Homo sapiens: one gene and its partner. The protein of the gene in region 1 purifies or fractionates together with the protein of each later gene. This does not show direct contact. Each region holds a gene or a part of one and is shown on either strand. Other genes may lie near its edges.

The links.
Region 2: the proteins of PDC (region 1) and PLXNC1 purify together in Homo sapiens (affinity purification with mass spectrometry; one large-scale study listed by BioGRID and IntAct). This does not show direct contact.

The regions. Positions count from the first base shown.
Region 1 is NC_000001.11:186,443,921-186,447,731, reverse strand, and holds part of PDC (phosducin), read left to right. Parts: intron 1-1,154; coding exon 1,155-1,306; intron 1,307-3,225; coding exon 3,226-3,753; 3' UTR 3,754-3,811. UniProt on the Homo sapiens protein: May participate in the regulation of visual phototransduction or in the integration of photoreceptor metabolism. Inhibits the transcriptional activation activity of the cone-rod homeobox CRX.
Region 2 is NC_000012.12:94,147,107-94,151,647, forward strand, and holds the start of PLXNC1 (plexin-C1 precursor), read left to right. Parts: upstream 1-1,470; 5' UTR 1,471-1,865; coding exon 1,866-2,927; intron 2,928-4,541.

The DNA of each region.
Region 1 (3,811 bases):
AAATTTATATTAAATATATATCATATATAAAACAAAAATTATTAGGCAATATAGAGGAGAAAGAAGGAATACATCCACATATAGAATATGATATAGAATATGGACATTAAAGGTGTAGATATAGCTAAGCTTTAGTGAAGGATAGTCAGTTTAATATTCCTTGTTTTAAAGAATTTAAGACTTTCTTAAATGAATAACGTTGTTAGTCATCAGGTCAACTGAATATCAGAATTCCAGTTGAATCATCCTTCATTTAATTAGTTTTACTTAAATCTGCCAATCTGGCCGGGCACAGTGGCTCACACTTGTAATCCCAGCACTCTGGGAGGCTGAGGTGGGCAGATTACTTGAGGTCAGCAGTTCAAGACCAGCCTGGCCAACATAGTGAAATCCCATCTCTACTAAAAATACAAAAATCAGCCAGGCGTGGTGGTATGCGCCTGTAGTCCCAGCTACTCGGGAGACTGAGGCAGGAGAATCACTTGAACCCAGGAAGTGGAGGTTGCGGTGAGCCAAAATCACGCCCCTACACTTCAGCCTGGGCAACAGAGCAAGGCTCCATCTCAAAAAAAAAAATAATCTGCCAATCCTATTCTTTCTATGTTTGCAAAATATGCCTAGAATCTTAGAAGAATGGGATGTTCTCGTAATAATTTTCCTAAAGCCATTTTAGTTTTGTTGAGGTCAGGCCCCCTGCTCACCAGTTGTTTTTTATATACTATTGTTATTTTGTTTCCCCAACATTCCCAGTTTCCTTTATTAATACTGTAATGCCAATTTTAGTTTGTTGCTGAAGTTTTTTTCTTAGGTAATAAAAGTGCTATTTTTTCCAAAATTCTAGTATCCTATCAGGACTCTAATTTTTAAATATATTAACCCCAACCTTTTGCCAGTAGTTCAAAGTGCATAATTTATATTTTCATTAGTACAAATGTTTCCGAAATATCCTTTACCAAAACCCATTTAACAAGATTAATGTGGGAGCATATTTTTATGAGCAGGGCAGTCAGAAATTTCTAGTCCAAACAAGATGTTTGTTTCTGATGCAGGAGACAATAAGTTTATTCCATGACAATACTTACACAAATTTCAATTATGCCAACAGTCCTTTTGAAAATAAAAAGGAAAACAATTTATTTTTAATTTCATTCCAGGACCCAAAGGAGTAATAAATGATTGGAGAAAGTTTAAATTAGAGAGTCAAGACAGTGATTCAATTCCACCTAGCAAGAAGGAGATTCTCAGGCAAATGTCTTCTCCTCAGAGTAGGAATGGCAAAGATTCAAAGGAACGAGTCAGCAGAAAGGTAAGATAATACAAAAAGCAGTAATAAATAATTTACAATGTGTTTTCTAATCTAAATCAATCTAGAGAATCACTTTAGACTATTACAAAATATATTCATTACAATATTGCTTACGCTGGCAAAAAAAAATGGAAATGAAGTGAACACCTATTGTGGCATTCTATACTAAGAACAGGTACAGTTATGAAAAGAATTCGTTACGAATACATGAGCTGACCTAGAGATAGTTTCACAATATGAGAAAGCAACATACAGAGAATTCCATCTGGGGAATTGTAACAAACCTGCTCCACTTGTTTTGAAAACATGTAAAGAAAAAATAAATGTAAAACTATTTTGAAACATGTAAAATACTACACAAATGTAACACATAATCACTATTAAAAATTTTATGCTAAGGTTAAACTTTGGAAATGTATCTGAATGCCTACATATCCATATGCCTGAATATGTGAATGAAACAAGTTTTCATATAAATGCTCAAATACATCTTCAAGTCAAATTTGTGTGGTTTGATCTGTTAAATTAACAGAACTATAGCAACAACTTAAAAATTATATGAAACATTGGAAATTTTTAGGATTAAAACTAAATTGGGACAATATTATTATTATTATTACTATTATCATTTTGAGACAGAGTCTCATTCTGTCACCCCAGCTGGAGTGCAGTGGCGCAATCTTGGCTCACTGCAACCCCTACCTCCTGGGTTCAAGCGATTCTCCTGCCACAGCCTCCCAAGTAGCTGGGACTACAGGCATGTGCCACCATTTTTTGTAGAGATGGAGTTTCACTATGTTGCCCAGTCTGTTCTCCTGGGCTCAAACAATCCACCTTCCTTGGCCTGCCAAAGTGCTGGGATTACAGGCATGAGCTCCCATACCCATCCCGGGACAGTAATCTTAAAACAGAAAAAAATATGATAAGGAAAAGAATGAGGACATTAGGGAAACAAATATAAGAAACAGAAGCAAAAGAAAGAAGTAATGAAAGCATCATAAACTTTTACTTAACTTAAATCTCAGTGTCTTCTGTAAAATGACACTAATAGTACCTACCTCAGAGGTTATCTGTAAGGATTAGATAACATAATCTACGTGAAGTACCCAACACCTGGTATGTTTTTCATAAACATTAGTTTCACGTGTTCTCAATTCTCCTCTACTTTAAAAATCCATGGTTCTGAGCTGCTCCACATCTATTAATCACACTATGCCCCATTGTTCCTTTATACCTTTTTTTCTTTTTTGGTTGGGGGAATAGGTGCTTAATATTCTGTTAAATACATTAATAATGGAGTAGCTATTATGGAAGGCCCTGCAGGTGACTTTTTATTCCAACTGCAATGAAAAGTAGCTATCTTAGAAAATGGAATTTGGGCCTTTTCTTACTTCAGCCCAAACTAGTGAATAATAATACCCTGGAGGGCTTGTTAAAATATGGATTACTTAGCCTCACTCTTATAGGTTCTAATTCAGTAAACCTAGGGTGGTGCCCAAATATTTGCATTTCCTAGAAGTTCCCAAGTGATGCTGATGCTGCTGGTCCAAAAATTAACCTCTTGGATGATCTGATGAACTCCAAATAGTAGGAAAAGCTGTCTTACTTGAATTTTTTGGATATTCAAAAAAATCAGTAAGTTATAAGATATAATAGTGTTTGTTGCTATAAAGAAAATAAACCAGCATAAAGATGGAGAGTGTGAGATGGGGACCTTTTTAGGTAAAGTAATCAAGGAAGGTGACATTTAAACAAAAGCTTCAATGAGGTGAAAGAGAAAGGCACATCAGGAGTGAAAGGTAGGTGGTCCAGGCAGAAAAAAAAGAGCAAAAGTACACTCCTTCGGTTGAGAATGGGCTTGGTATATCTAAGGAATAAAACTTCTGACTTAATAATTTCTATCATTTCTTTATTCTCAGATGAGCATTCAAGAATATGAACTAATCCATAAAGAGAAAGAGGATGAAAACTGCCTTCGTAAATACCGTAGACAGTGTATGCAGGATATGCACCAGAAGCTGAGTTTTGGGCCTAGATATGGGTTTGTGTATGAGCTGGAAACTGGAAAGCAATTCCTAGAAACAATTGAAAAGGAACTGAAGATCACCACAATTGTTGTTCACATTTATGAAGATGGTATTAAGGGTTGTGATGCTCTAAACAGTAGTTTAACATGCCTTGCAGCAGAATACCCTATAGTTAAGTTTTGTAAAATAAAAGCTTCGAATACAGGTGCTGGGGACCGCTTTTCCTTAGATGTACTTCCTACACTGCTCATCTATAAAGGTGGGGAACTCATAAGCAATTTTATTAGTGTTGCTGAACAGTTTGCTGAAGAATTTTTTGCTGGGGATGTGGAGTCTTTCCTAAATGAATATGGGTTACTACCTGAAAGAGAGGTACATGTCCTAGAGCATACCAAAATAGAAGAAGAAGATGTTGAATGAAGATTCACTATGTCAATATCTCATGTTTATCCTTTAGGTATTGGATGATGGTTTTGGT
Region 2 (4,541 bases), on another chromosome or scaffold:
GGGGCCTGGGGTCTGGAAATAGCCTGGGAAGGAACAGAGATCATTTCCCAACGATCCATAGAGGTCCTCAGCACCCTCCACTCCTATGCACCCCCTGGCTCATCTGCCAGACTGTAAGGGTGCTGATGGTGCCCGCAGCTGCCCCGGGAAGCTGGGAGGCATTTGTGCATCCTCTGGGAAGCCCCATTCCGAGAAATCATGAACCTATTCCCCAGTGGGCAATGATTCCCTGTGCTTCAGAAATTCTTGGCGGCTGTGGGGGCAACCCAGCTGTTATTCACCCTCTGGGTGAGGTGGTGAGACCTCAGGGGGTCCAAAGGATAAAAGTGGGTAATGATGAGACAGATGGAGAGCCTCGAGGGAAATACGGGGACTTGGGTCTAATAGTAGAAAGCAGGGCGGGGGCTGGTTGGTGCATTTAACTTGAGGAACTTTTCAGTCTCACTACAGAGAATGATCTCTGGGGGATTATGGCAATGGCCACAGGTGGCACTTAACTAGAGCCAGGTATGTAAGAGGCCCTGGGGCTAGATATGGATTCGAATCTCGGCTCTGATATCTACCAGCAGTAGAATGCCAGCACGTTCCACAACCTTTCTATAACCATTCTCCTGGACTACTAAGTAGGGATGACAATAACAGTCACTAATTAATAGGGCTGTTATGAGAATTATGAGTCTTAACCCATGTGGTGAGTTCACAAGCGCACCCGGCACGTAGTAAGTGCTCAGTAAATGTTAGCCCCGCTCATTAGGTTAGATGGTGAGCAGAACTTTCCAAGTGCTAGGCTTGAGAGCCTGGGACTCTGTTGCCAAGGGAGATTAGAGAACCTTTGCAAATATGGGCGCTCCGGCCCTGGGGATTGTCCAGAACGAGAGTGTGGCGCCTGCCTTTCTGCCACCTCACTCATCCGACCCGGGGAAACCCACACCCTGTCACAGGGGCGCCTTGGTCCCCGGAGTCTCCGGCTCGGCCATGTCTCCCGCGCGCCTCCCCGGGGCCTCCCTCTCGCCGCTCCACACCTGTCAGCCGCTCTCGCAGCAGCCCTGTGGCCCGAGCCCGGGGCCTCAGCTGCAACCCCTTCGCACCCTGGATCCTCGCTCCGCGCGCCTGGCGTATCCCCGACCCGGCTGCTGTCGTAAACAAAACCGGGCGTTGGAGCAGCACCGCGGGCGGACGGGCGCGGGAGCCCGCTCCGTGCGCCGTTAGCGCGCCCCGGGAGCCCCAGGCGAGCCAAGGGGGCGATGGTGGCGGCCGCGGCGGCCGCGGCGGGCGGCTGAGCTTTGTTATGAATAGATGAAAGAGGCCACCTACACAGTAACCCAAATTACGAGACCTCCCTCCTCCCTATCTCACCGAATCAAGAGGGGAGGGGAGATGGGCGTGGAGGGAGGGCGGGCGGGCGGGCAGGAGGCGGAGGGCGGAGGAGGAAGAGAGGATGAGGAAGGGGGCCAGTTGCATCCCACTTTCACAATGGGAAAGTGAAACGCACAAGCGCACCCAACCTCTCCAGCCCTCCCCGCCCGCCTCGCTCCTCTCCGCCCGTCCCCTCCCTTCCCCTCCGCGCCTCCCCGCGAGCGCCAGCGCTGCACACAGGAACTCTCCGGCGAAGGAGGGCGAGGAGGAAACGGTGCCGGAGCGCGCAGGGCTTGCTGCCGCCACCGCCGCTGCACAGGCTGCCGGAGCGAGCCTGCCGCGCGCCGCCCTCCCCGCTCTCCTTCCTGGGCGAGCTGCGGGGATGGGGCGGCCGCGGGAGCCCGAGCGCGCGCAGGAACCGCCGCCGCCGCCGCCCGCGTCTCCGTTGCCGCGCGCCTGAGCCGCCGTCGCCGCCGCGCGCCCTGCCCGGGGGCGGCCCCCCCAGCCCCATGGAGGTCTCCCGGAGGAAGGCGCCGCCGCGCCCCCCGCGCCCCGCAGCGCCACTGCCCCTGCTCGCCTATCTGCTGGCACTGGCGGCTCCCGGCCGGGGCGCGGACGAGCCCGTGTGGCGGTCGGAGCAAGCCATCGGAGCCATCGCGGCGAGCCAGGAGGACGGCGTGTTTGTGGCGAGCGGCAGCTGCCTGGACCAGCTGGACTACAGCCTGGAGCACAGCCTCTCGCGCCTGTACCGGGACCAAGCGGGCAACTGCACAGAGCCGGTCTCGCTGGCGCCCCCCGCGCGGCCCCGGCCCGGGAGCAGCTTCAGCAAGCTGCTGCTGCCCTACCGCGAGGGGGCGGCCGGCCTCGGGGGGCTGCTGCTCACCGGCTGGACCTTCGACCGGGGCGCCTGCGAGGTGCGGCCCCTGGGCAACCTGAGCCGCAACTCCCTGCGCAACGGCACCGAGGTGGTGTCGTGCCACCCGCAGGGCTCGACGGCCGGCGTGGTGTACCGCGCGGGCCGGAACAACCGCTGGTACCTGGCGGTGGCCGCCACCTACGTGCTGCCTGAGCCGGAGACGGCGAGCCGCTGCAACCCCGCGGCATCCGACCACGACACGGCCATCGCGCTCAAGGACACGGAGGGGCGCAGCCTGGCCACGCAGGAGCTGGGGCGCCTCAAGCTGTGCGAGGGCGCGGGCAGCCTGCACTTCGTGGACGCCTTTCTCTGGAACGGCAGCATCTACTTCCCCTACTACCCCTACAACTACACGAGCGGCGCTGCCACCGGCTGGCCCAGCATGGCGCGCATCGCGCAGAGCACCGAGGTGCTGTTCCAGGGCCAGGCATCCCTCGACTGCGGCCACGGCCACCCCGACGGCCGCCGCCTGCTCCTCTCCTCCAGCCTAGTGGAGGCCCTGGACGTCTGGGCGGGAGTGTTCAGCGCGGCCGCTGGAGAGGGCCAGGAGCGGCGCTCCCCCACCACCACGGCGCTCTGCCTCTTCAGAATGAGTGAGATCCAGGCGCGCGCCAAGAGGGTCAGCTGGGACTTCAAGACGGCCGAGAGCCACTGCGTAAGTCCTGCCCCCGGGGCGCCGCGGAGAGCGCTGCTGCCGGGGAGCCGCCGCCGCCGCCGAGGCAGAACGAGCTGGGGGCGAGCGGCGGGGCGGGGGTACAGCCGGGTGACATTTACCAGGTCTCAGGTTCACACCGCGGGCGGCCGTCCGAAGGCTCCTCTCGGACGGTCCCCGAGACCTGGAGCACGGCCTGAGGTCCCCAAAGGGAGAGTGTAAAAAGGGGGGCGGGGAGGGTTGGAGTTAGACTCAAAACTCTAGTGGCTGCATCCCATTGCCATCCTTCCCTGTCCAAACGGGGACGCTTGTTTGGGGCTGAGTCTCCTCGCGCAGCCCCTCTTTCCCATTCGCTTCTCCAGACTTCTCTGTGCCCCTTCCGTGTAGTCCCAGCAGGCGTGTGGGTCTGACCCTCTTGGTCAACAGTTAGCAACACAGTGCCCTCGGCAGAGAAGCCATTGAACCTAAAGGGCTCCCTGCCACACCCCAGCCTTTGTGGCCCCCTGTCTCCGCCCCCCACCGGCAACGCAAGTGCTGTGGTCTGAAGAGTTGCTAGCCCGCTCAGCGTGGAGAAATGCCAGCCTGCAACAGAGGCTTGCGCTGGAACCGAACCCCTGGCGTGAGCCGGTGCGAGGGGGCGGTGCCGTGGCTCTGCTCAGGGTGCGCTGTGGTCGCCAGCCGCCGGGAGAGGCTGGGCGGGAGGTGGCCTTGTGGTAAAAGCCTCATCCTAGAGGGGAGTGCAAGGGAAAGTGTTGGGGGTGCTACAGGCAGTTTCTGGGCTCCAGATTGCGAGACTAGATGGCGGGACTCAGAGTCACCACCCTGGGGCTGAACCAGGCAAGCGATACAGGTTTCCCCTGGGCTCCCAGGGCAGCCACAGCTTTTATCTTGAGATTGGCATTTCTTTGACTGGAAAATAAAGAGGCAGTTCAAGAGGGTCCAGTTGATGGGGATTATGGAGCCATTGTGCACTTCTCCGGAGGCCGTTTCCCTTCCAAGGCGGCTGGCACATCAACTCCACATATGGCTCCTGAGAGGGGAGCCTGCTGGGAGCCTCCTTTATAACTGGACAAAAATCAAAGCGCAGAAATTAACGGCTACAGGTGTTGCCATTGTTTTGGTACAAAATGAATCAGAGAGGAAGGGGAGAAGTCACTGCTTGGAAAATGTGTTGATACAGGGGCACGTTGGCTCCCAGGTATATTAATATGTGTATAGAAAGACAGCTTCCCCCACCCCCTTCTTTCTCTGCAAAGCACATCTTACCAAATATTAGCCCTATGAGCCAGGGAGAAAAAAACCAGGAGGTCTTTTGCAAGGCTTCTTAGAACGGTCACTTGCTGCTGCTTCTTTGCCTGTCAAGCTGTGTGCTGGGACACACACATTAAGGCCTTCATTTTGTTACTGGTATAATTTTTAAAAATATGTAAAAACACATATTTGCCTCCTAAATGACTTGCTGTTGCCGTACACATATAATGTAATATTTGATTCCTGTCTTTATTAGATCTTTATAATCTAACGGTTTAAGTTTGGTAAAATTATCGTTTCCTACTTCTCTGTTGAAAGACTTGAAAGTACCCCCGAAATATTACTTTGTGTCAAGCTTTAGACACA